Homo sapiens: one gene and its partners. The protein of the gene in region 4 interacts with the protein of the main gene of each other region in a biochemical or structural test. Each region holds a gene or a part of one and is shown on either strand. Other genes may lie near its edges.

The links.
Region 1: the proteins of ITCH (region 4) and PACSIN1 form a complex in vitro, tested with the Homo sapiens proteins (2 studies listed by BioGRID, with this or other methods).
Region 2: the proteins of ITCH (region 4) and CDC34 form a complex in vitro, tested with the Homo sapiens proteins (3 studies listed by BioGRID).
Region 3: the proteins of ITCH (region 4) and UBE2G1 form a complex in vitro, tested with the Homo sapiens proteins (2 studies listed by BioGRID).

Annotation. Positions count from the first base shown.
Region 1 is NC_000006.12:34,532,076-34,535,723, reverse strand, and holds the end of PACSIN1 (protein kinase C and casein kinase substrate in neurons protein 1), read right to left. Parts: intron 3,304-3,648; coding exon 3,194-3,303; 3' UTR 501-3,193; downstream 1-500. UniProt on the Homo sapiens protein: Plays a role in the reorganization of the microtubule cytoskeleton via its interaction with MAPT; this decreases microtubule stability and inhibits MAPT-induced microtubule polymerization.
Region 2 is NC_000019.10:533,740-543,372, reverse strand, and holds the end of CDC34 (ubiquitin-conjugating enzyme E2 R1), read right to left. Parts: intron 7,537-9,633; coding exon 7,450-7,536; intron 7,131-7,449; coding exon 7,033-7,130; intron 6,361-7,032; coding exon 6,226-6,360; intron 4,696-6,225; coding exon of another isoform or gene 4,383-4,695; exon of another isoform or gene 4,337-4,382; intron 2,035-4,336; coding exon 1,821-2,034; 3' UTR 1,286-1,820; downstream 1-1,285. UniProt on the Homo sapiens protein: E2 ubiquitin-conjugating enzyme that accepts ubiquitin from an E1 ubiquitin-activating protein, and catalyzes its covalent attachment to other proteins by an E3 ubiquitin-protein ligase complex. In vitro catalyzes 'Lys-48'-linked polyubiquitination.
Region 3 is NC_000017.11:4,267,423-4,273,972, forward strand, and holds the end of UBE2G1 (ubiquitin-conjugating enzyme E2 G1), read right to left. Parts: intron 5,095-6,550; 3' UTR 1,837-5,094; downstream 1-1,836. UniProt on the Homo sapiens protein: Accepts ubiquitin from the E1 complex and catalyzes its covalent attachment to other proteins. In vitro catalyzes 'Lys-48'-, as well as 'Lys-63'-linked polyubiquitination. May be involved in degradation of muscle-specific proteins.
Region 4 is NC_000020.11:34,365,031-34,374,663, reverse strand, and holds part of ITCH (E3 ubiquitin-protein ligase Itchy homolog), read right to left. Parts: intron 5,271-9,633; 5' UTR 5,194-5,270; intron 1,963-5,193; exon of another isoform or gene 1,938-1,962; intron 1-1,937. UniProt on the Homo sapiens protein: Acts as an Acts as an E3 ubiquitin-protein ligase which accepts ubiquitin from an E2 ubiquitin-conjugating enzyme in the form of a thioester and then directly transfers the ubiquitin to targeted substrates.

The DNA of each region.
Region 1 (3,648 bases), on a different chromosome or scaffold from region 4:
TCCCACGGGTCCCACACAGAAATGCATTCAGAGCCAGGCGAGACGCAGGAAGGCATGGCACAGCCCAACATCACCGCACAGGGAGCTTGGCACTGTGGACAGCCAGGAACCGTGGGCCTCAGCAGTCACTTTTAGAATTCTGCTTTAAAAAGCAAAACCTATTTGAGGACCTCATTCACTCTTGATCCATGAATGTGGAACCCTGAATGCCCCAGCTCTCCTGGTCAGGGCCTGTCACCAGGCACCCGGAACCTGAATGGGCCAGAGCTCCAGGAGCCTCCAGTATCACCCTCCCCAGTCCAGACAAGACCCAGGCCCCCGCAGGGCGAAGGGACCGGCTCTCAGTGGCCTAGTCTGTGGATGGTGGGCCAGGACAGCACCCAGTCCTGCTCGGGCACCACCCCTACCCCCCTGCATCCCAACCACAAATAGCTCTCAGAGGGCTCAGAAACCCCCAGGACTGAAGGTGCACAGACTCAAGATGACAATGCGCAGCCAGGTTGACACAGTTCTGGATTTTATCCACAGTCATACAATCACAACTGATATATATATATATTTGTATTTATATACCTTTAAATTACACAATCATGTACAAAACAGGTGCATTGCTGAGACCACAGCACTTCTCGGAGTTTCACAAGTGTCGGAACTAATGGAGTCAGGAAGCCTAGGGCGGCAGACGGCGGGCGGTGGGGCAGCCCTGGTTCCTTGCAGAACCAGGCCGCAGAATGGTGGTTAACTGGGGACAAAACACATTACTCGCCGAGCCCCACCAGGGCGGGCCCGTGCAGCATCGTGGGTGCAGGCAGGAGCTACAGGAGGAGGCCGTGGGCATGGCAAGGGGCGTGGCCCCCACACTCGGTGTTGAGTGCCCTGACACCAGCACTGGCAGGTAGGGCTGGGCCCTGGAGCTCAGGGGGACTTCCAGGTAGGAGACCCTCCCGCTCTGGGGCCCTGAGGACCTGGGGACTGAGAGAGTGGTCCCAAACAGGGCCCTGGAGGTGGCTGCTCAGGACGGAGGGGGTTTCGAGTCCCTGCCCTGGAGTGGGCAGCTAGAGTGCTAAGAGGGACAGGCTGGAGTCCAGCTGGGGCTGCAGCCCCTCCCAGGTGCTGGGAAGCCGCTGGCACAGAGAGGGGGAGCCCAGGCCCCAAGGTGCAGATTGCCAGCTTCCCACCTTTCCAAGGTAAGCGATGAGGGACAGAGGCCCCCAACCCCAACTCCTGCCTGGGGAAAGGCTGGAGAGAGAGGCTTCTGCACTGGAGCTGGGAGGACTGCAGGCTTCCAAAAGCTTGCTTCAGGCTCTGAGGAGCCCAGGACACACCTCAGGCTGCAGCCGAAGCTCGGAGACCAGACAGTGATAAGGAAGGGGGTGCTGACGGCAGGAAGGAGGTCTGCCTGTCCCCGGGGTGCCATCGCCCCTGGCCCTGAGGGAGGCCTGCCCCAGCTCAGGCCCTGCCAGAGTGTCAGGACCCTCTGTGCCCACATGAAGAAGGTCAGAGCCTTGAGGCTGGGGTCTACTACCTCCTAACAGTGGGCTGTTGGGAGAAGCAGCAGGAGCAAAGGAGGACTGAGGGGAAACAGGGCTGGGCTGGCTCTCTCTCTTTACCTGGAGGCCCAGGAGGCCAGGTGTGCAGGAGGGAGGAGGGCATCTGCGGTCCAGAGGCCTAGAAGTGGCATCCACTGTAAGCAAGTCTCACCTGGTGCTGCAGGACTTCTCAGCTCCTTGCCCCAGAGGTCCCCAAGAGACTTTTCTTCCAGCTCCCCGCCCTCATGGGGTTTTGTCCAACCCTGGTCTGCTTCCCAAGCCCCCGCACCCTCTCGTGCGGTACCTAGCACTCCGGCACCACTGCTTTCACCAACCAGCAGGTGGGCCCTTTGCTCCCACCCACCCCCAAAGGTCCTTTCACTCTGACCCAGGTTTGGAGACATGGAAGGGCTGCCAGCAGGGAGAATGTTGTTCTGGGGGCCGTGGGGACAAGGAAGAAAAACATGTGACTATCTTCTTCCTGAGGGCCAGGATTCCTCCTTTCTGCTGAACTCAGCTGCAGGCTCTCCCCTGATGTCTCAGGCTGGAGGCACCCGTGCGGCCTTCACGGGCTCCCCAGGCAGGCCAGAGAAGAGGACAGAGGAATGGTTAGGCCAAGAGCCTTGCAGGTACAAGGCTTGGCCTCATGGAGGCTGATGTGGAACCCAGTGATTTTATGGTTTTTGGATGGACATGGAGGGAGAGTGGGGGGCCAGGGGAACAAGATGATCTCCTCCCCAGCAAATGGGAGCAGGCTGCTACTGTTGCTGGCTTTGCCGTAGGTTTGGGGGTCCCCACCCTAGGCCAGGGGACTTTTGAGAGGGGACAGGTCCTCTGCAAGTTGCTGAGGGGGTTTGGATCTGCTGAAGAGCCGATGCTGAAAGTGCTGATAGCTGGAAAGAAGGGCCTGCGTAACAGCGTCTTGGTCCCTCAGATGGGCCTGGGGCTGGGAGGGCTGGCACAGCCCGGGCTGAGGGCCTGCATGCCCTTCATTCACCCTCCTGTACCCCAGTGACACCATGACTTCCTCCAGCTCACCCCTCTTTCATGTCTGGGGGACCCCTGGAAACCTCCATGGGGGAGGAGGGTGACCGTTCCTCCTCCAGTCCCACCGGTCCCAAGGGACGTGGCTAGGAGTAGAAGGGTGCTCCCCGGGGCAGAGTGGAAAACTAAAGATGGGGAAGCCTCCCTTCCAGGGGTCTGGAGAGGAGGCCTTTGAGAGCAGGGTGGTGGAGGAAGGGAAGCAGGGCAGGGGAGGAAGAAGAGGTTAGGAAACCAGGCCAGGGAATGGGGCAGGTGCCGGCAGCCTGGAGTGGAGTGGGACGGAGGGAGTGAGGCGGGGTGGAAGGGTCAGGAGACATCCATCCCTCAGGGCTCAGGAGACTCTTTGGTGGAACCCGAAGAGCAGATGTTGTGATGTTGGGCTAAGTCCTAAGACTGTTACCTACCCTGGGGCCACCCCAAGCCCCAGCACCCCAGCCTCCAGGTGGCCCTGCAAATGCTCTGTCTCTGCATACTTTGTTTTGTTCTGTTTTGACTTTTAAAAAAATAAAAGCTTGATCGGAAAATATGTCTGGAACTCTATGGCGAGGGGAAGGAGACGAGAGTGGGAGGGGAGGGGCGGCAGTGGGGAGGAGTGACGGGAGTATGGAGGGAGGGGGCCTCTAGATAGCCTCCACGTAGTTGGCAGGGTAGAGGCCCAGCTGCCCGCTGTCCAGCCGCCCACGGCACCAGCCCTGCTCATCCTCCTCGCCCAGCTTGGTGAGTTCGTCTCCTGGGAAAGAGAACACAGGGAGGGGCTCAGAGAGAAGGCTGCCCCTCCCTCAACGCACCGGCTGCTAGGGGAACCCTCCAATACCCACCTCCTGATTACTGCACTGGGTTTTAGATTCTTAGGCCCCGCCCCTGGAAACCAGCCCCAGTCCCACGCCAACATTCACGTGCCACCCTTGGCATAGGGGTCTTGGCCTACCTCAGCCATTCACCTAATCTGGGTGTCGGGTCCGTCCCCAAAACCAGACCTCGCATCCACACTATTCTCAGGTTCTGACTCCGCCCCTGGCACCAACCAATCTAAATCTTGCCCCCACTCCCATCCTGGGCCCAGGTCACGCCCACA
Region 2 (9,633 bases), on a different chromosome or scaffold from region 4:
TTCACCAGCGGACGGATATTTGCGCTGTTCTAGTTTTTGGTCTTCATGAATAAAGACACTGGCCGAAGGCGGTGGCTCACACCTGTAATCCCAGCACTTTGAGAGACTGGGGCAGGAGGATCGCTTGAGCCCAGGTTGGGGCTGCAGTGAGCCGTAATTGCACCACTGCTCTTCAGCCTGGGTGACAGAGCAAGACCCTGTCTCAAAAATAAATAAATTTAGGCCGGGCGCGGCGGCTCACGCCTGTAATCCCAGCACTTTGGGAGGCCGAGGCGGGCGATCACCTGAGGTTGGGAGTTCGAGACCATCCTGGCCAACATGGTGAAACCCCATCTCTACTAAAAATACAAAAATCAGCTGGGCATGGTGGTGGGAGCCTGTAGTCCCAGCTACTCAGGAGGCTGAGGCAGGAGAATCACTTGAACCCAGGAGGCGAGATCGCACCACTGCACTCCAGCCTGGGCAACACAAGACTGTGTCTCAAAAACAAAACCAAACCAAACCAAGCAGCTATGGATGATCCTGAGACCTGGGTGTGGCTGTGCCAGTAACACTTCACTCACAATAGGGGCGGACGCCAGGTTTGGTCCCGAGGGCCATGGTTTGCTGAGACCCCAGGGCCCCATTTTCTGTCCCAACTTGGTGGGAAACCTCATCCTCACAGCTCCTCGACCCTGAATCAGCCACTGAGCGACTTTCCGGGTGCCCAGAAGCGGAACGCAGGCAGGTTCCTGGAAGGCGGTGCCCCGGGAGGGCATGGGAGCTCCGAGCTTTCCTCCATGACATGTAATAAAACGATGCTGGGGACTTCCTGACACCAGGACGTGAGGTGCCTGCCCTGTGTGCCCAGGGCCACGGCTCCCCACCCCGAGGGTGTGCCTGGACGGAGCTGGAGCCGCCGGAGTGCTGATCGGGGGCATCTGTGGTCCTGGGAGCCCTGAGACGCTGAGATCAACGCCCAGGCGGCTGTGGACCCGCGACGAAGCTTTGCTGGATGCCTGCAGAGGCAGCTCCCGTCCCACTAGATGCACCTGGTCACAGGGAGGAGGAACTCTGGGGGCTTTCTGGCCGCCCCTGTCCCGCAGGCTGGGGGATGCTGCCCAGGCCTGTCTGACCCAAGTCATGGGAACGTACAGGCCGCGGGACCCGGCTGCTCCCCGTGCCTCCCAGGACAGGCCTCCCAGATCCACACCTGGCGTAGCCAGGGTCCCAGTGGGACTGGCCGTGTGCAGTCACTCATGGACGTGGAGGCTGCCTCTCCCTCCCAAGCACAGCTTCTCTGGCCTCTCATAAAGTAGTTTTATTTAGATTTCAAACAAACCAAAGCAGGGAAAAGAGTCGGCCACGGTGAATCCGTCCACTCTGTGCTGGACGTGGCTCCAGGACCTGGAGCTGACAGGCAGGACCGGGCCCCTCGGACCGCTACACCTGGGCCTCCCAGGCTGGTAGTGTCAGGAAACGGCCCCCCGCCCACGTTCCCAGCAGCGCCCCCGTGGCTCCTCCGGGGTGCGGCCAGTCCGGAAGCTGGGGGACCCCGGTAGAAGTCGGGCTCAGCTCCCCTCCCGAGGGGACAGGTGGGCCGGCCGCTCCCACCCTGGGCCCGTCCACCGAGCCCCGAGTGACGTGAGTGGCGGTGGGGCAGCCCCTCTTCTCTGAAGCACGTGAAAACCCAGAACAGACATGGGGAGGGAGAAAAAGCCAAAACGAAACAACCAGAGGAGACGGGGACCAGCACAAAACCTCCGTGAGGTAGTCTGTCGTCTAAGGAGCCACGGGTCCGGCCCTAGTGAGGTAAACTCGGCAAGTTTATTCTGGTGGTGTCAGGACTCCTCCGTGCCAGAGTCATCCTCATCGTCCCCGAAGCAGCTGTCGGCCTCCTCCTCCACCTCGCCGTCCTCGTAGTAGTCGTCGTAGAAGAGGTCTGAGCCCTCGTCGGGCGCCGGCGCCTTGGTCTTCACGCAGTACTCGGCCAGCGTGGTGGGCACCTTCACGCCGTCACGCTCCGCGTCCACCTTGGTCCCCAGGACCTGCTTCCTGGGGGGACAGGGTGGGTGAGGGCGCCACCCACGTGCCTGGACTCGGCCCCTGCCCGGCCCCCCTCCCCCAGGTCCGACGCTCACCCCAACGCTCAGGTTTCTCTTAAAACGGCGTGTGGCGACCACTTAGGACAAAGCCCTGTGCGTGAGGAACTCCAGGGGGAGAAATGACAGAGGAGGGGGCTCGGGAAGGGCAGGAGGTGCGGGTGGGAGGCTGGACGGGCGCAGTGCAGTCACACCCGCCTGCCCCGCCCCGAAGCACAACCCAAGGGACCCATCAGGAGCTGGGAGAAAATAACGATGCCGGCAACAGGGAGGGCCCATGCTGCCCCACTGGGGGGCAAAAGCCTTCCTCAGCGCAGGAGCAAAGGAAGCAGCTGGGAGGGCCCAAGGACAGGAGGCAGGACCATCCCTGGAGACGGGAACCAGCACAGGTGAGATGGGAAACGCAAAAACGGCCTGAGCCTCTCCGTGGCCTCAGCAGGATTCTAAACCCGGGGGCCTGGCCACCCCGGCCTCCGGATTCTAAACCGGGGGGCCTGGCCATCCCAGCCTCTGGATTCTAAACCCGGGGGCCTGGCCATCCCAGCCTCCGGATTCTAAACCCGGGGGCCTGGCCACCCCGGCCTCCGGATTCTAAACGTGGGGGGCCTGGCCACCCCGGCCTCCGGATTCTAAACCCGGGGGGCCTGGCCACCCCGGCCTCCGGATTCTAAACCCGGGGGGCCTGGCCACCCCGGCCTCCGGATTCTAAACCCGGGGGGCCTGGCCACCCCGGCCTCCGGATTCTAAACCCGGGGGGCCTGGCCACCCCGGCCTCCGGATTCTAAACCCGGGGGGCCTGGCCACCCCGGCCTCCGGATTCTAAACCCGGGGGGCCTGGCCACCCCGGCCTCCGGATTCTAAACCCGGGGGGCCTGGCCACCCCGGCCTCCGGATTCTAAACCCGGGGGGCCTGGCCACCCCGGCCTCCGGATTCTAAACCCGGGGGGCCTGGCCACCCCGGCCTCCGGATTCTAAACCCGGGGGGCCTGGCCACCCCGGCCTCCGGATTCTAAACCGGGGGGCCTGGCCACCCCGGCCTCCGGATTCTAAACCCGGGGGGCCTGGCCACCCCGGCCTCCGGATTCTAAACCCGGGGGGCCTGGCCACCCCGGCCTCCGGATTCTAAACCCGGGGGGCCTGGCCACCCCGGCCTCCGGATTCTAAACGTGGGGGGCCTGGCCACCCCGGCCTCCGGATTCTAAACCTGGGGGGCCTGGCCACCCCGGCCTCCGGATTCTAAACGTGGGGGGCCTGGCCACCCCGGCCTCCGGATTCTAAACCTGGGGGCCTGGCCACCCCGGCCTCCGGATTCTAAACCTGGGGGGCCTGGCCATCCCAGCCTCTGGCAGGAAGGGAGGACAAGTTAGCTCAAACTTCCTGGAGGGCACCGTGTACACCCGGCCCTATGAGGGGCTGCACCGCGCACACCAGGACCTACGAGGAACCTGCCCCCGGCTCCACCTCCAGGACACGCGTCAAGAATGTCCCCCCAGGACTGGAAGCAAAGGGGCTTCCGGGGGTGGCACAGCAGGGCCAGGCGGCACGCTGACCCCATTTGACAGAAAACAGGAACGAGGCTGCAGCCGCAGGCAATGGGCTCGAGCCCCTATCACCGACCAGGCACGGCTCTGGGCTCTGGGGCTGGCTGCTACCAGGGTGTGCGGGTCCCACAGTGCCCGCATGGGAGGGCACCAGGGAGCAGACAGACAGCCCCAAGCCCAGCCCACAAGCCCAGTGCTTTTTATGGGGATGCATGACGCGTGGAGGGCAGGCGTCTGGCCTCAGGGACGTCCCTGGGTGGCGGGACCCAGCGGACGCCAAGCTTTGCTTTCCAAGCTCTCCGATGGGCTGGGGGGGTGACTGACAGTGCCCCGGGGACGGCACTGCACGGGTGGCAGCAGTGGGGAGACGCAGGGGAGGGCCAGGGTGGACGGGCTGGGGGGGTGACGGTGCCCCGGGGACGGCACCGCAGAGGTGGCGGCTGTGGGGAGACGCAGGGGAGGGCCAGGGTGGGAACTGACCTGCACCGTGGAGGTGCCGCCGGCACACCGCCAGCATGAGCTGGAGGACGGTCTGGAGGTCCTGTTCAGCAAGACCAACATCCCTGACCAAGCCGGGCTCCACGGCAGCCTGCCCGACACAGCTCAGCGGGACTTGGGCTGCCACGAGGCCAACACGCACACAGATGAAAAAACAGGCAGAAACGGCGACCACAGCAGAGTCCACATGGCACATGTGTGTTGGCCCACAGGGAGTTTTGAGGGATAAAAATAGTGTGGCTTTTATTTCTGTGCTGGGATCTCAAGGAGGTGGTGCCTCAGGGAGGTGGCCGGGAAGAACCGGGCCAAGGAGCCAGCCACCTGGGCCAGGTGACACGACCGGACCGGGGCCACCGAGGACATCTGCACCAGAGGGACGGCCAGGGCAGCTACCCTGTGACCTCCAGAGGCCAGCAGGTGCTTGCAGGCCACTTCCCAGGAGGCCGCACGGGGCCCGCCCACCATGGCTGCTCAGAGCCGAGACCGCCCAGCACCAGGATGCTGCCCCGAGATGACCCCACGACACCAGGTACCAGCGAGTGCAGGATGGAAGGTGCCCTGGATGCTCCTGGGTCCTGGGGCGAGGAAGACACATGCATTATGTGTGCAATATTTTAAAAGTTGTTTTTAAGATTCTGTTTATACAAAATACCAACAAAAATAGGTGAGGCCTCTGTGAGGAAATCTATGCAATATCACTCTGAGAAAAAAAAAAAATGGATAGGAAGGGCCTCTATGTAACAGGAAGAGCAGGAACCATTAAGGCCGTCAACCCGTAAAGAAAGCCTTGTCTTTGTACACAGACACGCACGTGTTTACACATTCATGTGAACACAGGCACCCAAGAGAAGGGGCTGTGGGGCTCAGCTCTGGGGCATGAGGGCGATGGGAGGAGAGGGAGAGCCGTGGGTCACCACACACAGCCACGCAAGCTAAGTGGACTGCAGGTACAGAAGGCGCCGGTAGGCGACTGCACAGCTGTACCCAGAGCTCACCAGGCCAAGAGCCTGCAGGGACGCACTCCAGACATGAGTAAGGCCAACACCCCTGACTAACAGTCAGTCACTGGGCACACACAGCACGACCCCATTTTTTCATTAAAGCACAGACACATGTTCCCTAACAGTCAGTCACTGGGCACACACAGCACGACCCCATTTCTTCATTAAGGCACAGACACATGTTCCCTAACAGTCAGTCACTGGGCACACACAGCACGACCCCATTTCTTCATTAAAGCACAGACATGCGTTAAACTGAAAAGCCTGGAAGAATCTATGAAAACACTAACCACCAGGCCAGGTGCAGTGGCTCACGCCTGTCATCCCAGCACTTTGGGAGGCCGAGGCGGGTGGATCACCTGAGGTCAGGAGTTTGAGACCAGCCTGGCTAAGATGGTGAAATCCCACCTCTACTAAAAATTACAAAAATTAGCTCGGCGTGGTAGTGGGCACCTGTAATCCCAGCTGCTTGGCAGGATGAAGGGGGAGAACTGCTCCAACCCGAGTAGTGGAGGCTGCAGTGAGCCGAGATCGCACCACTGCACTGCAGCCTAGGCAAGAGAGTATAACTCTGTCTCCAAAAAAAAAAAAAAAAAAAAAGGCCGGCCGCGGTGGCTCACGCCTGTAATCCCTGCACTTTGGGAGGCCGAGGCAGATGGATCACGAGGTCAGGAGATCGAGACCATCCTGGCTAACACGCTGAAACCCCGTCTCTACTAAAAATACAAAAAATTAGCCGGGCGTGGTGACGGGCGCCTGTAGTCCCAGCTACTTGGGAGGCTGAGGCAGGAGAATGGCGTGAACCCGGGAGGCGGAGCTTGCAGTGAGCCGAGATCGCGCCACTGCACTCCAGCCTGGGTGACAGAGAGAGACTCTGTCTCAAACAAAAAAAAAGAGGAAAAGGGGCAAGAAGCTGGGCTTGAACCTGGCTGGACCCTCCGCCACTCGGCCCGGCCTCCATCTGTGACTGGCACCCTGTAAATGGGCACCAGGAAGCTCCGCCACCCTCACCAGGAAGGTGGGGCTGGGCGGCCGTGGGACCAGGGGCCGGGGTGCAGGCCGGATCTGAGTCTCTCCTCCCGTGACGCCCCCGCCCGCCCTCACCGGATGATGTCTGTGTACTCCCGATCCTTCCCCTTGCTCTCTTTCCACTTCCTGTACATCACGGAGGCGTCCACGTTTGCGGGCGAGAAGGTGTTGGGCTCGTTCAGGAGGGAGATCACACTCAGGAGAATGGTCCTGTGGGGAGAGTGGGTCGGAGTGGGGCGGCCCGGGGCACCCCAGCCTTCCGGCTCTTCTCTGGCCCTGAGGGTCACGGGGACGCCTGGACCCACCCAGCAGGTGACCTTCACCTGGCCTCATGGCCTCTGCTTCTGTCTCAGGCCCCCAGAACAGCAGGGGCTGGACCTGCATCAGTCTCCTCCCTCCCACGCCAAGACCAGGGAGGGCAGCAAGGTGCAGACCCCTCCGTCAGACCCGGGGCTGCCCTCACACCCGCACGTCCTGCCTAGACTACACTCCAGGACACACGGGCAACACGGCCCAGTGCTTGTACCTGGGGACGAGGCCCAGGCGGCACACGTGGCACGAGGTGACCAACCCAGAGACGGCTGGGTAAGGAGAAGGCCCCAGGACTGAGGATGGCGGGACACCTCTAGGTGGTTCCAGACGGTGGGGCCGGCCTGGGGTCCTGGTGGGAGTCTGCACCGACACACGGTGCCGCAGGCCCCGTGAAAGCACCTACCGTGCAGGTACAGCGAGGCCCAGGACCGCCAGCTGGCAGGTCCCGAATCAGGCCTTGGCGCCACAGCCTGTGGGGGAGCCCGGCCTACCTGATGGTCTGGGTGGATACGGGACGGAGCCCGGCCTACCTGATGTTCTGGGTGGACACAGGGGGTTGGGCCGGCTTACCTGACGTTCTGCGTGGGGTTCCACCTCTCTGAGGGCAGCTCCCCGCTCTGGGGGTCGTCCACCGGCGGGTGGAGGATGGAGATACACACGTCCCCCGTCTGCACAAGAAGAAGACAGGTCAGAACAGGTCAGAGGTCAGCACGGGCTCCCAGTGCCCCAGGTCCCGGAGGATGAGGACGTGGAGGACGAGGACGTGAGGCTCCCAGCGCCCCGGGTCCCGGAAGGACGAGGACATGAGGCTCCCAGCGCCTCGGGTCCCGGAAGGACGAGGACGTGAGGCTCCCAGCGCCCCGGGTCCCGGAGGACGAGGACGTGAGGCTCCCAGCGCCCCGGGTCCCGGAAGGATGAGGACGTGAGGCTCCCAGCACCCTGGGTCCCGGAGGATGAGGACTTGAGGCCCGTGGGGGCCGCGCTCACCTCGTAGATGTTAGGGTGCCACATCTTGGTCAGGAACCGAAAGGCTGGTGGAGAGTATGGGTAGTCGATGGGGAACTTGAGGCGCGCCTGCAGGGGCAGAAGGCAGGTGGCTCAGTCCAGCCCAGCCCCAAGACCTGCCCCAGCTCACAAGGTGCCCAAGGCCATCCCACTCCCAGTGCTGGTGCCTGAGGGTGTGTGTGAGGGACACCGTATCCTGCCCAAGGCAGGGACTCTCACAGGCCTGGGGTCAAGTCCCCAGAAGGCTGCCTGAAGCCTTTTCTGAGTCACCCGAGCTGATCCCAGCTCCTACACAGTCCAGGTGGCCGGGACCCGGCCCAGCACAACTGCTGGGGAACGTGGGCACTGGCTGCCCGCGTGGCTCCAGGCCCGTGGCAGCCCAGGTCAGGCATATGGGACCCAGGCCAGGGGCACCCACCAGCAGACAGAATGGACTGGCAGGGGCTCCAGGCTCCCCTTGGATGGAGCTGAAGCCCAGGACCAGGGCTGCACCTCCAGGGCCTTGGCAGCCAGGGTGTGGGGAGGGTTAGCACAGATGATTGCTCAGTTAGCAAACACTTGTGACACCTGCCCTGGCCCAGGCCGTGGGAGGGGATGAGTCAGTATGGCCGTCTGCCCTCAGGTGTCCGGTCTTGGGGGGTCAGGCAGGCAGACCCATAGGTCACAGAAACCTGGCAGGACTCCTTCCCTGTCAGCATCGCCCCCTGTGGTCACCCAGGCCCTGGAGGTCCAGATCTGCTGGCAAGGACGGCCACAGAGGGAGGCCTGAAGCCACGTGCCAGGTGACAGAGCTGTCTGGCCTGCAGCCTGGGGCGTGATGCCACCCACGGCCCTCCTGGGCCACAGCAGGTAAACAAGGAAGCCTCACTGTTTTCCTGCTGGGCCCCAGTGCCAGACACAGAGGTTGTCTGGGTCAGGGGTCCTGGTGGCACTCAGCACTCCAAGGCACGAGAGCAGCACCCCCAGAGCGATCGTGGTGGAAGCCTGGACAGGGAGGGCACTCAGGGGGTCTTGGATCGTGGGCGAGGTCTGGACAGGGAGGGCACTCAGGGGGTCTTGGATCGTGGGCGAGGTCTGGACAGGGAGGGCACTCGGGGGTCTTGGATCATGGGCGAGGTCTGGACAGGGAGGGCACTCGGGGGTCTTGGATCGTGGGCGAGGTCTGGACAGGGAGGGCACTCGGGGGTCTTGGATCGTGGGCGAGGTCTGGACAGGGAGGGCACTCGGGGGTCTTGGATCGTGGGCGAGGTCTGGACAGGGAGGGCACTCGGGGGTCTTGGATCGTGGGCGAGGTCTGGACAGGGCGGGCACTCGGGGGTCTTGGATCGTGGGCGAGGCCTTGACAGGGAGGGTACTCGGGGGTCTTGGATTGTGGGCGAGGTCTGGACAGGGAGGGCACTCAGGGGGTCTTGGATCGTGGGTGAGGTCTGGACAGGGAGGGCACTCAGGGGGTCTTGGATCGTGGGCGAGGTCTGGACAGGGAGGGTACTCGGGGGTCTTGGATTGTGGGCGAGGCCCCTCCCGGACAGGCAGGGCACTTTGGGGGTCTTGGATCGTGGACGGGCCCCTCCTGGACAGGGAGGGCACGCGGGGTGTCTTGGGGGGTGTCCTCTGTTTGACAGGGAACTCACTGGTGCCCCGTAAGGCAAGTGACTTGGCCGCGGCCACAGAGCAAGGCTGGAACTTCAGTCTCAGAACTGTCCTGCGGTTCCCCAAGACTTCAGGCCCCCCAAGCCTGGTGCTGGGTTTCAGGCGGCAATCCTTGACAACAGCCAAGGCCTCATCTGTACCAAACCCCACCAAGTCCCAATGAGCCTCTTATTTTGGGCACCTCTAAGAATGTCTTTTCCCCGGAGCAAACCCAGGCTCAGAAAAGGAAAGCGCCCTGCCAAGGGCAGACAGCAAGTCGGCTGTGGAGGGCTCTCTCTGGCGGCCCCTGCCCCAGGGCTCACTTTGGCTCCTGAAGGAACAGCAGCTGCAGGCAGTGGCTGGGCAGCAGCGGCCCTGGGCACTCAGCAGGTTCTGTATTTCCACGCTCCCCCAACTCCCTCCCAGGCACAGCGGGAAGGGAGAGTCCTCGTGGGTGGCAGCACCCCCGTCTCAACACTGGCTTCTGAGGACTGACCCTGTGGCAGATGTCTAGAGGCCCCCTCCCTGGGAAATCCG
Region 3 (6,550 bases), on a different chromosome or scaffold from region 4:
TTTAGACCCACTTCAGGTTTTGCAGTCAGATTCAGAGGGACTTAGTGTGGTGCTGTCTCAGACAAGGAACATGAAGAACAGGAAGGGAATAAATGCTGTCTACCGTAGCTTCAAGAGCACAGGGGAACAGACTCAGGAGGCAGTGCGGTATCATGGCAGGGCAGGAAGAGGAGGACACCTCCAGTGCTAGTCCGATGAATTGGGTCAAGCACCGGTCTCAACACATCCACGCTCTGTGAGCTCTGGTTTCCTCACCTGTGAAGAAGGGCTAATAACACCCAGTATGCAAGGCAGGCGGTGGAACCGAATCCCAGCCATGCAACTTGTGTGCTGTGCAACGATGGCAAGTTAACCTGAGCCTGTTTCCTCATGAGAAATGATTACCTTGGAAGCTGCTTCTAACAATGTGACTAGAACCTTTAGGAAAAACACATAGCACAAGCTTGCCACAGAAGAGAGGCTCAACAAATAGAAAAACTTGATTTCCAGCGCTCTTGTTGGGAATAAATGGAAGTCACTGTGAATATTGCATACTGCCGAGAAGAGGAAAAAAATCAAGTTTCTTGCCTAGGACTTTCTGTGCAGCTCCTATGTCTTAGAAGATGTGTTTGGCTCCCTTTTGTGAAAGGCTTTTCCTTCAGTTTATTTACCTGTGTGAACAGAATTCAAAATTCTTTCATCATTTCGCTAAAGCTCAGTGAGGAGTGTCAACTCCACAAGCCAAAAAGCCTAATCCTACGTTGGCAGCCAGATTACACACATCTGAAATTGAACCACCAGAAATACCATACCCAGAAAATCATTTGATCTGTGAACTGAATCCTGTGAGGGTTCCGGGCCTCCTCAAGGCAGAAAGGGTTCAATTTGAAAGGCGGTTATTAGCCCTGTCCCATGAGAGGGAGCGGGAGATCCACATCTTTCCTGGGAGCCTCGTGCCTTGCACACACCATCGAAAACCTGTTCATCTGCACTGGAAGCAGCATGCAAATAAAACGTTTTGGCTCTATACCTTGAGTAGCTGATTATGTCTAAAACTGATGTAAGTTTGGGGATATATATTGTCTAGACCCTTCCACAACAGTTCATTCCAAATATATTTATCGGGTATTTGCACTCTAGAAATAATCCCTCATCTTCCCAAAACTCCTCTCGGGGGATTTTCTTGTTCATAATTTAGCTGAATAAGAGGTCTGACTCCATGTTCCTTTCTCCGAGTTTGTAAGGAAGAGCCCTTAATAGTCGCTAGTGATTTATATCAAGGACAAACAAGCTTTCAACATCTAACACTAACTCCGTATGAACTATTTGTAAGGATTCAGGATAAAAAGCTGGATGTTGATATCTTGTGTATCTTGTAAAGAAGGTTCTCTACTCAGTCTTGCCTCTTTTGTCAGTAACTTACTAAATGACCCCTGGGCAGGTATTGGCGCATTTTCCCGTCTGTTTAGAGGACAGAGGTGGTGACTGAGATGGTGCCTGCAGTCTCTTCCAGTTCACATTTGAGTCTGGGTTCCTCACCTTTCAGCTTACCTTTATGGTAGAGCCAGTTTAGGCCAAAGACAAAATCCCCAATAATGTTCTAATAAGTGCTCACTCGAAGGTTATAAATCACAGTGCACACAAACTCTGAGTTAAAACGGTGCATGGCCACGTACTGGAAATCTAAAGAGCATCATTATCAGGTTGGAAGGCAAGTTAACTTCTCTGGTTCCTTCTTTAAAGTCTGTAAAATACAAGGTTTCCCTGTGGTTCCTTTGGTATCATGTGCTGTTTATACAGAAAGAGTCCCACAACTTGCTTTTGAGACCTGCATCCTAAAACCAAAATAGCTCGTGATACAGCCTCTAAGTCATCATTTATTGATTTATAGAGCACTCATCACATGAATGAGGTGCTTTACAATACAGTAAACATCACAACAGAACTCACATAGTTAAATACAATCAACAAATTACAGAACTAAAAAAACTGAAATGAAGCAACATTATGTCAAATTTCAAAGATGCTGAGAAGTGGCAGTACAAAAAAGGTAATTCCACCAACTGGAGACCAGACGGGCAAAGATACACAGGCACCACAGCCCAAAGCGGGCAGATTCGTCGAGGGTGAGTGGGCATATCAAATAAAATCTCACAACCAAGAATGAAGGCCGTTAAAGATACTGACACCCACGTGATCACAGTACTAGTGGAATAACCTCACAAACATGTTACCTTAGTATGACACGTCAACCTCATATGGATTTTAAACTCAAAAAAGAGGCCAGAAAGCCACTCAGATCATCTATCCCATACAAGCACAGACTGAAATCTATATGCCTCTACGAGAACTTGGAATAAATTTAGGAAACAGCCAACAGTTCTACAATCCATAAGATCTATGGAGATGTTGTTGATGGTTGGCACAAGTTTAGGGGGAAAAATCATTTTCCTAAAGCAGAGAGGAATCGCCTCACACTGATGAGGCACTGGTGGGACAAAAGCCACCTCGTTCAGTGTCACCTGAATGTGGGTTTCGTATCAAATGTAGAGGCATTTAAATTTACATTATCAGATGAACACTGAGAAAGGCACAGATGACATCTCCGACAGAGGAAGGGAAGTTGTAACATCTATGTAGGCCTGTTTCAGTATGTAACACACTCAGGGCAGGTGGAAAAGCATGTGGAGACGCACTCATGCCTGGCTCTCACTTCCACTCCCGTAGAGCTAGCCCTAAAAAAAAAACCCACATGGTTTTATCAAACTAACTGCATTAAAGTGGCACTTAAAGTTCAAAAATAGTTGTCCCTGAGTTACTAGGTCATTTGCTGCTTGCTGAAGAGTCAGATCCCAAGTTTCACCTCAACAGATTGCTAGCAGAATTATAGCAATAGGAGAGCAAAATTTGAACTCCGTTTTGCCACAAGCAACCACCATGTGAACAAGTTCTGATTTTAAAAGGGAGGGATCCCATCTCTTAAAAGAATTTTTTTGTATTAGCCAGGCATGGTGGCATACACCTGTAGTCCTAGCTACTCAGGAGGCTGAGGCAGGAGGATCACTTGAGCCCAGGAGGTCAAAGCTGCAGTTAGCTATGATCGTTGCCACTGCACTCCAGCCTGGGTGACAGAGAGACCCAGTTTCTTAAAAAAAAAAAAAAAAAAGTAAAAAGGATTGTATTCCAAGTCCCTGGAGGGTGTGCAGTGCTGACATTTTGGGGCAACTATTTTTACAGTCTTTGGAAAAGGAAAAAAAAAACCAAGTCACAAAGTTCTTAAAGAAAACTGGGTTCTAATGAATCAATTTCCAGTCACAACACACTTACGAGTTTCTATAAGGTTTGTGGGTTTGTATAATGTTTACAGGTTTTTATAACGCTTCAGAGTAGAGGACAGGGACTTAGAAAAAAATCACTCTCTACTGTGACTACATCCTCAACCATTTTATTTCTGCTTAAAAAAGGACATACAACGTTTGTAGAGGTCTGGGCTCTTGGCAGGAGTTCTTTCACTCTTCTGCCAAAGCATTTCTCCAAACCCCACAGAGCAGAGATGCACGAATTCTCACTGATTCTCACAATCAAACACCATGTCCCATCTGCTACTGTCTCAAGTTCTATCCCTTATAAGCCAAAGACTACTTCCCACACACAACCTCACAACAAACATGAAGGAGCCTAAGGCCTGCCTTTAACACTGCACATGTTCATTTTACCATTTGCTGAAGTTGTTTTAGAAAACTGTATGATATGAAATATATTGAAGCTCAAACATTAATCACATCCAAGTGTACTATTGTTAGTGACGGGATCTATACGTCAAATAGCAAAGCATTTACCCCTGTAATGCTTTTAGATTCACAGAAGAATCTAGATAGAACCAAATACATATACTGCCATGGCCATGTGATTTTCAAGTATTAAAAGTTCATTTGCATAAGGAATCAACCTGAGATTTTCCTAAACCACTTCTCTGGCACTCAGTATTATAGCCTTCATTCAATACAATAAAAGCCAACAACTTGACAATTATTGAAAAAAAATTATATTTTGGAAGAACTCACTACATAAGGTGACAGAATTCCAAAATCAAATTACATGAAAATATACATCGCAATTTCTTTGTACAATAGGTGAGAAAAATCTGCAGTATAGAAGAATAGAGGCAGAGAAATATGAAGGACTAAGGAGAAGGGTATGAGAGTAAATAGGATTTGTAATAGCAAACCCAGAAGTTAAGTAGAAAGCCTGTAGCTGTGCATGCTTCATTTATCCAACCTTAATACCAGGCAACTGAAGAGGGAAAAGTCAGATTTGCTATTGTTTGGGGAAATTTTCAGTAAGTTGAATTAAGAACCATCTATTTTTAGTTCTCAGGGGTAATGACTGGGATCAAGAGCTCACAACGGCCAATAAATGTTATTGCTATATCCAATCCAAGAGGTGGGTGCAACTAGAATACAAAAAGGACAAAGCACCTAGTGATGACTCCTTCGAAGTCATCATTAAAAATCAAGTAATTGCTCATTAAGTATTTCAGTATTTGAACTAAATCATTTGAGAACATTCTGGCAGGTAAGAGATAAAAGCAAAGGGGAGTGTGTCAAAACAAAGAAGATACAAAAGTTTAGTAAGTGAAAAGAGTTTAATGAAGCCTCAAGGGTTTAAGGGAAATTAAATGGAAACTTTTAATCCTAATTGCTTTTCATCTGACATGCTTAAAGGAATCCTTTTAAACTGATAAGAAACAATGAATAGGAAAGAAAACCTGCTAAAATCTCTTAGAATTTACACGATTCTTATTCTACTACAAGAAAGCATTATTTGGTACAAGGTGTATTTGTGGATGTACATGAACAGTATATATATTATCCGGATCATGTTGTGCTATGTACAGGTCTTTACAATTCTTCCTGAAGGTTAAAACAGTTCATTAGAATTCAAAATGCGTAATCATCTGTAAGTTGGCACTTGTTAGGCTCTTGTCAGCATTGATAACTGGCATGTTTTATTGCAGCCCAGTTCCAGCCAGTGTTTGCCAACTTGTACAACAGAAGTCCAGCAATAGGTGGGTAGAGTGCAGGAAAAACAGTGCCATGTTTCTCAATTGGAGACCTACAACAACAAAAACAACATTATATAGTCAATTCATCAATTACAAAAGAATTAACTGTAAGTAGGTTTTATCCATATTAGATTTATTTGACAACAAATCCTTAATTTCATTCTGAGCTCACTTTGTTTCTATCTATTATGGTAGCTCACAGCCACGTGGGTATATTTAATTTTAAATGTAAATTAATTGCCATTAAGTACAATTTACAATTTAGTTCCTGAGTCATGCTAAGCACATTTCACGTGCTCAGTAGTCACATGTGGCTAGTGACTGGCAAGCTGAACAGCACAGCTGTATCCTTATCATCACAGAACGTTCTACTGGACAGCGCTAATTTAGATTTTTCAATACTTCAAATGTCTTTCAACTTATATTAAATCTAGAATCCATAAGAGAAGATTTAAAAGCCAAGTGATTTGGAAATTTACAAACATTTGAGGATGTTCAGAGAAACAACTTAAGATTGCCACACTTCCCAACTTGCTAAATTCTATCTAACTCACTATAGCTCCCTTCAAACCCATTTTCTCCACAAAGCCTGCCACAAATGACCCTCCATCCCAACCACAGTTTCTAAGTGTTTCAAATCTGTTGGCCTCGTATCATCCAGTTAGACTGTAAGTCAAGAACACATCTACATAAAAAGCAGCACCGCCTCATCGAGTTCTGATGTGCCAAGCAGCATGCTAAGCGCTTTACAAACTCATTTCCTGAATGCTCACAATCATCATTATGAAGGAGTCTCCCCTCTAAAGCTGAGACAAGTTCACATAGCCAATAAATGGCTGAGTTTCCTGTTCAAAAAGTTAGAAAAACACTAGGTTGAAGTTTTTGTTTGTTATTTATTTGAGACAGGGTCCCACTCTGTCCCTCATGCTGGAGTGTAGTGGCATGAACATGGCTCACTGCAGCCTCTGGGCTCAAGTGATCTTCACACCTCAGCCTCCCAAGCAGCTGGGACCACAGGCACACACCACCATGCCCAGATAATTTTTAATTTTTTTTTGTAGAAACAGGGTCCTCACCACGTCACCCAGGCTGGTCTTGAACTACAGGCTCAAGCAACGCTGCCACCTCGGCCTCCCAAAGTGTTGGGATTACAGGCATGTGCTACTGCACCCAGTGGTTAAAGCTTTAAAAGTCTCATTTGACTATTAGACTTTTCAGAGTCTTTATTATATTAATATGTGCTTTGAAAGGGGGGTGGGTGGGGGCGCCAAGGACAGCAGAAAAGGAAACACCTATTAGGACTGCATCTTTAGGTCAAGTGTTCCAAAGAACTCAGAAACTCTGAATCCATTGCCATGCACAATTTTGGGCAAAAGAAACAGAAGATGACTAAGAAATCAAGGGATATAATTTTAAATTCCTCACAGAGAAGCCAAATATACCTAAAGAGTTATGACAAATTTTAACTCACACCAGACATGTTCAAAATTCAGCATGCCTTCTAAA
Region 4 (9,633 bases):
CCAGTCTGATCTGTCATTACTTACTAAATGTTCATCCAGCCCTTGCAGGCATTTAAATTTACAATGCTCAGCCTAAATAGGTTTACTGAATGATTTATGAACTCAGATCATAACTTTAAGAAAGATAAGGTTGATGGTAATGATGATAATGAAAACAACGACTAACACTTCACACTGTGAGCCAAGTCTTGTTCAAGCAGAAACACATAATACCTATGTATATATGCTATTACTATTCCCAATTTACAGATGAGAAAACTAAGGCAAAAAGAAGTTAGGCAAGTTGGCCAAGATCATACCACCACTACACAGTAGAGTCAAAATTCAAAATCAACCTAACTCCAGTAAATACTGTTAACTCCTACAATATAATCCTTTAGACTAAAATCCTTTCCTTTGTGACCAACTAAATTTGATTATTTGGAAAAATAATCAAGACAAAATTGTAGAACCTACTCTTTCTTTGCACGAATGAAGGCCTAACAAGCAAATCAAAGTTCACCTAAATGCAGATGGTTATTTCTGGAGCTTATCTTGTCTTAAAAAAATAAAAAATAAAAAGTCCATCCTGGCCAACATGGTGAAACCTCGTCTCTACTAAAATACAAAAAATTAGCCAGGCGTGGTGGTGGGCACCTGTAGTCCCAGCTACATGGGAGGCTGAGGCAGGGGAATCGCTTTAACCTGGGAGACGGAGATTACAGTCAGCCAAGACTGTGCCACTGCACTCCAGCCTGGCGACAAAGCAAGACTGCATCTTAAAAAAAAATAAAAAAAAAAAATGTTCTCTTGTAACTGACAAAGAAAAGGTTGCAGAATCCAGTAAAATAATAAACATTTTCTCAGAAAGCAAGCAAGTTAGTAGATATTTCTGGAGTGAGTTAAGCTCAATATGTAGATGAATTCTTAACCTGTAAGTGACGACATAGTATTAAAATTCTTCTCTTTTCTGGGACAGAAGGATAGATCTATTAGGGTAAGCAATTTCCAGACATGGAAAAAAAAAATGCGAGTTGCTGGAGGGCAGAGATTGCTTTTTCACCATAAGTCCCTGCAATGTCTAGCATACAGCAGCACTTAAAATACATTCAATTATGTTAGGCCGAATGCCTATAATTCCAGCACTTTGGGAGGCCAAGGCAGGCGGATCACCTGAAGTCAGGAGTTTGAGACCAGCCTGGCCAATATGGTGAAACCCCATCTCTAGTAAAAATATAAAAATTAGCTGGCCATGGTGGCAGGGACCTGTAATCCCAGCTACCCAGGAGGCTGAGGCAGGAGAATGGCTTGAACCCAGGAAACGGAGGTTGCAGTGAGCCAAGATTACACCACTGCACTCCAGCCTGGGCGAGAACAAGACTCTGCCTCAAAAAAAAAAAAAAAATACATTTGGCCAGGTGCAGTGGCTTATGCCTGTAATCCAGAACTTTGGGAGGTCGAGGCAGGTGGATTATTTGAGGTCAGGAGTTCAAGATCAGCCTCACCAACACAGTGAAACCCTATCTCTAGTAAAAATACAAAATTAGCTGGGCGTGGTGGCACATGCCTATAATCCCAGCTACTTGGGAGACTCAGGCAGGAGAATCGCTTGAACCCAGTGGGTGGAGGCTGCAGTAAGCTGAGATTGCACCATTGCACTCCAGCCTCGGCAACAAGAGAAAAACTCCGTCTCAAAAAAAAAAAAAAAAGGAATACATTCAATCATGTTAAAGGAACCAAAAAATCTGAACTTAATTTCTTAAATTGCAATGCAATGAAACTCTTGTAACATTTACCAACTTCCTTTTTATAATAATCAATCACTGGCAAGGAAGTCTGTTTTCCTGACAAAATCCTTAAACCAGGAGTTTTATATTTGAGTACCCCTTGGAACCTAGCACAATAGCAGCTCAACAGATCCTTGTCAAATATTACAAACTTAAACTTTCTATACTTACGTTTCCTACAGGTCTCTCAGTGCCAATGTTTAAAGTAGAACTTAAAAGGCCGGGTACGGTGGCTCATGCCTGTAATCCCAGCACATTGAGAGGCTGAGGCAGGCAGATCACGAGGTCAGGAGATCGAGACCATCCTGGCTAGCACGGTGAAACCCCATCTCTACTAAAAATACAAAAAATTAGCCAGGCATGGTGGCGGGTGCCTGTAATCCCAGCTACTCAGGAGGCTGAGGCAGGAGAATTGCTTGAACCCGAGAGGCGGAGGTTGCAGTGAGCTGAGATTGCGCCACTGCACTCCAGCCTGGGTGACAGAGTTAGATTCCCTCTCAAAAAAAAAAAAAAGTAGAACTTAAAATAACATGGTTTCTCATTTATAAAGCATCAGACATTATGAAGCCTTTTTTTTTTTTTTTTGAGACAAAGTATCCCTCTGTCACTCTGTCGCCCAGGCTGGAGTGCAGTGGCGTGAACTCGGCTCACTGCAAGCTCCGCCTCCCAGGTTCACACCATTCTCCTGCCTCAGCCTCCCGAGTAGCTGGGACTACAGGCGCCCGCCACCACGCCCAGCTAATTTTTGTATTTTTAGTAGAGACGGGGTTTCACCATGTTAGTCAGGATGGTCTCGATCTTCTGACCTCGTGATCCGCCCGCCTCAGCCTCCCAAAGTGCTAGGATTACAGGGATGAGCCACCGCGGCCGGCCGAAGCCTTATTATAAGATATTTCTGATATCAGTCATATATTGTGATGTCAACAAAGCCATGAAAAATCAGTGAGTTAGCACATAAAGCACAGAATATAATAGAGTGAGCTGGAAAGAACCTGAGAAATCATATTCAAAACATTCAATAGATAAGTGAGGAAACCAGGCCCAGGGAGATTTAAGTGAGCTGCCCAAGATCACAGAATTTAAGTGACCAGTAATACCAATGGTAGAACGCAGGTTTCCTGAATGTTGGCTCAAATACCTTTCCACAAAGAACTGCTTTGTGAGCTTGAGATGAAATGGATATGCTGAGAAATATTTTAAAGATATTTTAAATACTTTAATAATACTTTTAAATATTTTTTAAATTGCTTTATAGTAGCTATCACAAATCATTCCACCATCTCCTTCCTTTCTCTTGATTATAAAAAAGAACAGGACCGGGCTCAGTGGCTCACGCCTATAATCCCAGCACTTTGGGAGGCAGAGGCGGGCAGATCACCTGAGGTCAGGAGTTCAAGAGCAGCCTGGCCAATGTGGTGAAACCCCGTCTCTACTGAAAATACAAAATTAGCCAGGTGTGGTGGGTGCACGCCTGGCCTCCCGAGTCCCAGCTACTCAGGAGGCTGAGACAAGAGAATCACTTGAACCCAGGGGGCAGAAGCTGCAGTGAGCCAAGATCGTGCCATTGCACTCTAGCCTGGGGAAGGCTCCATCTCAAAAAAAAAAAAAAAAAAAAAAAGAAGAAGTGATTTTATTTCCTTTGGATATATACCCAAAAGTGGCAATGCTGGATCATATTTTAGTTCTATTTTACCAGTATCTTCCTATTCAGTTTTTTTTTTTTTTTTTTTGAGACGGAGTCTGGCTCTGTTGCCCAGGCTGGAGTGCAGTGGTGTGATCTCGGCTCACTGCAAGCTCTGCCTCCCAGGTTCACACCATTCTCCTGCCTCAGCCTCCTGAGTAGCTGGGACTACAGGCGCCCGCCACCACACCCGGCTAATTTTTTGTACTTTTAGTAGAGACGGGGTTTCACCTTGTTAGCCAGGATGGTCTCGATCTCCTGACCTCGTGATCCACCCGCCTCGGCCTCCCAAAGTGCTGGAATTACAGGCGTGAGCCACCGCGCCCAGCCTCAGCTTTCTTATCTAACAATTCACCTGCTCAACTTCATTCACTCCCTATTCTCTTACTGCTTAACTTTATGTTCTACTTTTTTTTTCTTACCCAGTAGTCTTCCTTCTCTCCTGACCTTTTAAAGTGATCTGTCTTGTCCTCATGTTTTCCTTCACAATACTACTCTCAACTTCTCTCACCTTGTGGATCTAGATAACATTTCTTTTCTTTTTTTTTTTTTTGAGACAGACTCTCACTCTGTTGCCCAGGCTGGAGTATAGTGGCACGATCTTGGCTTACTGCAGTGTCCACCTCCTGGGTTCAAATGATTCTCCTGCCTCAGCCACCCAAGTAACTGGGAATACAGGCACATGACATCACACCCTGCTAATTTTTGTATTCTTAGTAGAGATGGAGTTTCACCATGTTGACCAGACTGGTTTCAAACTCCTGACCTCAAGTGATCCGCCCACCTTGGCCTCCCAAACAAAGTGCTGGGATTACAGGTATGAGCCACCGTGCCTGGCCAAGATAACATTTTAAGTCATGAATTCATTTCCTTTTCTAAAGATTTAATAGGTATTATTTTATTTGATCCACACAACAATGCCAGGGATGGAGACAGGAATCAATACTTACCTATTTTACAGATGTATAAACTGAGGTCTGGCAAGATTAAATAACTCGCCGAAAGTCACACAGCTTGTCAGTGGCAAAATCAAATCGGAACCCAGATCTTTTCTTTCCAAGTCCTCTATTCTTTCTGCACTGAACCATGTTGTCTTTTTTTTTTTTTTTTTCCGAGACAGGGTCTCACTCTGTCACCCAGGCTGGAGTGCAGTGGCGTGATCATGGCTTACTGCAGCCTCAACCTCCTGGCTCAAGTGATCCTCCCATGTCACCCTCCCAATCAGCTAGGATTACAGGTACACGCCACCACACCAGCTGATTTTTTTTTATTTTGTGTGGAGTCAGGGTCTCGCCATGTTGTCCAGGCTGGTCCCAAACTCTTGGGTTCAAGTGATCCTCCCACCTTCGCCCCACAAAGTGCTGGAATTACAGGCATGAGCCACTGCACCTGGCCATGTTGTCTTCTTTTTCATTACCCACCTCTTAATCCTACACATGCACATGTCTAGATAGTATACAGAGATAAACGTGTATAAAACAACACAAATAGAAAAAGTATGCATATGTATAAGGGATCTACAAAAACAGAAAAGTCAGAAAACCCAAATTAAGAGCACAGTGTGGCTCACAGGCTAATCCCTGCAGAGGCAGCTTTGGGTTTCAGAACCAAGTGAAGCTGCCTATATGTTCAACCAACTGATGCAGCTAGCATCAACACTGCTCTCTCCTCACAGCAGGTATAAGACCAGAGCTTGGCCTCTGCATCACTCTTGCCCCCAATTTCTCTCACAGGATGACACCATACCTGAAGTTCTCACAGTTTGAGTCACTTCCTTGGGTTAAGGCGTTGTCTCCACAAGGCCACCGTGAAATGCATGGTACCTGAGAAAGGAAGGAGAGTCCATTAACACATTACTTCTATATTTTTTTGTTTGTTTGTTTTTGAGATGGAGTCTTGCTCTGTCGCCAGGCTAGAGTGCAGTGGCATGATATTGGCTCACTCCAACCTTCGCCTCCTGGGTTCAAGCGATTCTTCTGCCTCAGCCTCCTGAGTAGCTGGGACTACACTACGGGCGTGCACCCCCACGCCTGGCTAACTTTCGTATTTTTAGTAGAGATGGGGTTTCACCATATTGGTCAGGCTGGTCTTGAACTCCTGACCTCGTGATCCACCCACCTCAGCCTCCCAAAGTGCTGGGATTACAGGCGTGAGCCACCACACCCAGCTGACCTCTATAGTTAAACACATCAGATCTGCAACGACCTTGCGACTCTAAAAGCACAAAGTCTCTTTTAAAAATTTCATGGGATAGACAATTTTTAATGGAGCAGACAGGACAAAAGAAAGAACTGAGGGAAAATGATTCATACGTATTATGGGAAGACACCAATCTGAGTATGACGGCTATCTGGCAAAATGAGGATGGCCATATAAATACACCAGCCTATAAGGGTCACCATAATGATAGTCCCTGCAACTTGGAGACTCCTAGGGACAGGAAAAGAAAACGCACACCAAGGATCTGGATATAGTCAGTTCTGAAAAGAAGCAAAAAAGCTGAGCTGGCAGCAGTTTTTCAAGGACAGTACACTGCTAGACTGGAGGAGGATAGAGGCAGGAACAGCTTCTGGTTAACTGCTTCTAGTTGTGAGGATAGTTTCCAACTTAACGTTTTTAGCTGAAAGCCAACCTCCCAACCAGAGAATGCTGCAATTCAATTCTGTGAACCCCCTAACTAATTTATATTGACTCAAAGCCAGTATCATTTACAGCCATAAAAGTCAACATGCCTTTACTGAGTGCTTATTATGAGCCCAGAATTTGGCTAAGTACTATAAATACAAAAAAAAAAACCTTACATACTTTTGTCTTAATTCTTATAAAGGAAACCAATGTCCAAAACCCAAAACAGAGACTTAGGCAACAAGAAAGAAAGTGGCAAAACAACAAAACAGATGACTATTTCCTATCAGTACTAACACGAATTTTTTTTTTTTTTTCTTTTGAGACAGAGTCTCATTCTTGTTGCCAGGCTGGAGTGCAGTGGCACAATCTCAGCTCACTGCAACCTCCGCCTCCCAGGTTCAAGTGGTTCTCCTGCCTCAGCCTCCCAAGTAGCTGGTACTACAGGTGCATGCCACCACACCCAGCTAATTTTTTGTATTTTAGTAGAGATGGGGGTTTCACCACGTTGGCCAGGATGATCTCGATCTCCTGACCTCGTGATCTGCCCGCTTCAGCCTCCCAAAATGCTGGGATTACAGGCATGAGCCACCGCGCCCGGCCCTAACACAAATTTCTTAAGACAGAATGAATATAACAAAACTTACTTCTAGGCCAAAATTCCTTGTTAAACTCTTGCCTAAACAGTCAAGACGCATAGGCTAAAAATCTCCCTTTTCTTTTTCTAGTCTAATACCAGAAGCTCTTCAGTAGTGCACATTGATCTTTGTAAACCAGAGAATACCAGTCCCAGAGTTGCAAAACCCAGTTCTAGTTCTAGTTCTTACTCTTAACTAGTTTCAGGTAAATTATTTAACCTTTAAAACAAACAAACAACAACAAAACAGAAAACTAAGAGATTGGACTTATCTAAGAATAGCATATATTTGGCACATGTCTACTACCTACTAGGTAACTGTCCACAGGAGACATCATTGATCAACCATAATACAATTTCTCAGAGCACCTACAACCAGAATCCTTCCAAACACAGTGCTTCTGGCAGCTTCCAATTAGAGCTGGCCAATAAACCAAAATATATTTGCCATTATGGACTAGATAATCTCTGTAACTTCTCCCAACTCTAAAACTCAATGAGCAAGTTTCTACAGGCTGAGAGAAAAACACTCCCAACAAGCCTAGATCAATACTTTTTAGAGGCATAAATTTCAGTCCAAACTCCAAGTTCTAAATTAGCCAGGCTTGGTGGCATGCACCTCTAATTCCAGCTACTTGGGAGGCAGCTACTTGGGAGGCTGAGGCACACGAATCGCTTGAACCCGGGAGGTGGAGGTTGCAGTGAGCCGAGATCACATCACTGCACTCCAGCCTGCATGGCCGAGCAAGACTCCATCTCAAAAATAGTAACAATAACAAACTTCAAGTTCTCTTCCAAATTACACCTGACATAGTTCTTTCTAATTTCTCAAAGATGCTAATGAACAATTCACTCTCATACTATACATAACATATATAACCTGGCAATATTATTCAGACTTGCTAATGGGTTCTTTTGACAGAAAAGGAGCCCTTTACCCAGATTAGCTCTAAAAAAAAATCCTCATCTAGAAATATGGCAACAATATTGCACTAGTAAAAAGCTAAATCCAATCCTTTGATCATCCCCACAACCTCTCTCCAAGGTCAGGCTTTGTCATTTCTCAACTAGACTTCTGCAATAGCTAGTCCCTCATCCTTTCGCTCATCACCAGAGCAATCTTTCTTTTTTTGTTTTTTGATACCTATCTTTGTCCTGCAGTACACAGCAATTTTCTAAAACACATATGTACTCACATCATTTCCCTGTCGAAAAATCTGCATCTATTTCTTTTTTTTTTCCTTCCTTTTGGTAAAGACGGGATATCACCATGTTGCCCAGGCTGGTCTCAAACTCCTGAGCTCAAGCGATTCACCCGCCTCAGCCTCCCAAACTGTTGAGATTACAGGTGTGAGGCACTGAGCCCAGCCCTGTATCTATTTCTACCAACATAAAATTCCAAATTTTTAGCATTATACTTAAAATTTTTAGCCAGAGCACAGTAGCTTACACCTGTAATCCCAACACTTTAGGAGGCCAAGGTGGGAGGACCACTTGAACACAGGAGTTAAGACCAGACTGGGCAACGTAAAGAGAACCTTTCTCTACAAAAAAATTTTAAAAATTAGCCAGGCATGCTAATGCATGCCTGTTGTCCCAGCTACTCAGGGAGGCTGGGGTGGGAAGATCACTTGAGCTCTGGAGGTCCTGTCACTGCACTCCATCCTGCGTGACTGGGTGAGACCCAGTCTCAACAACAAAAAATCACTTTTCATATACTTGCTTCCTTTAACCTTTCTGACCTTGCGTTTCAAAATGCTCTCCTTCCCCATTCCACTCCACACTCCCTGAACCCTTTTTGTTCCATAATCCTCTGAATTTACACACAGCATTAAGGCATTCACTCAGCCTACCCTGTCCTTCTCTTTCCCCGCCCTTTTCACACTCCTACTCTTCATGTAAGACCCAATGTGGGTTCAGGGGCAAATCTTGCCTCTTCTAACCAATCCTCCACCCAGCCACACACACAGAATTGGCCACTTCCTCTTTCGTCTCAAAGCTTTTTGACCTTTCCTTGGTAAGTCTACAGTACCATTTGCCCTCAGTGGTTCCCAAGACCATCAGAATTACCTAAGGCATGTGTTAAAAATAAATTGGTTGAAGCCAACCCAGACCTACTAAATCCATCTCAGAAGGTAAGACCCTGGAATTTCTAAGCTCTCCTAATTATTCTAATGGTCAAATTTGGGGACTACTGGTTTGTCTGCCTCTCCCAATAAGTGAAAAGATGTATTTTTTAGGGCCAGGAGTGGCGGCTCATGCCTGTAAACCCAGCACTTTGGGAGGCCAAGGCAGGTGGATCACGAGGTCAGGAGTTCGAGAGCAGCCTAGCCAATATGGTGAAAACCCATCTCTACTAAAAAATACAAAAAAATTACCGGGAGTGGTGGCACGCGCCTGTAGTCCCAGCTACTACGGAGGCTGAGGCAGAAGAATTGCTGGAACCCGGGAGGCGGAGGTTACAGTAAGCCGAGATCACACCACTGTACTCCAGCCTGGGTGACAAAGTTAGATTCCGTCTCAAACAAACGAAAAAGATGTATTTTTTTCTAAAGAATGTAGAAATGTTTGATTCTAGAATACACTGAAGAAGTAGTCTGTACTCATTTTTTTAATTTCATATGATATCCTTGGTGACTTGACCTGTATGCTGAATGTAATGGAATTCCTTTTGGACTCACAAAACTTAAATTCACAGTTCAAAGAAGCAGTAGAATTTCCACCTTCATTTCTAAATTTTTTTTTTTATTTTTTGAGACAGGGTCTCACTCTGTCACCCAGGCTGGAATGCAGTGGCAACGGTAACAGCTCACCGCAGCCTCGACCCCCCGGAATCAGGTGATTCCCCCACCTCAGCCTCCTGAGTATCTGGGACCACAGGCGCCTGCCACCACACCCGGCAAATCTTTGTATTTTTTGTAGAG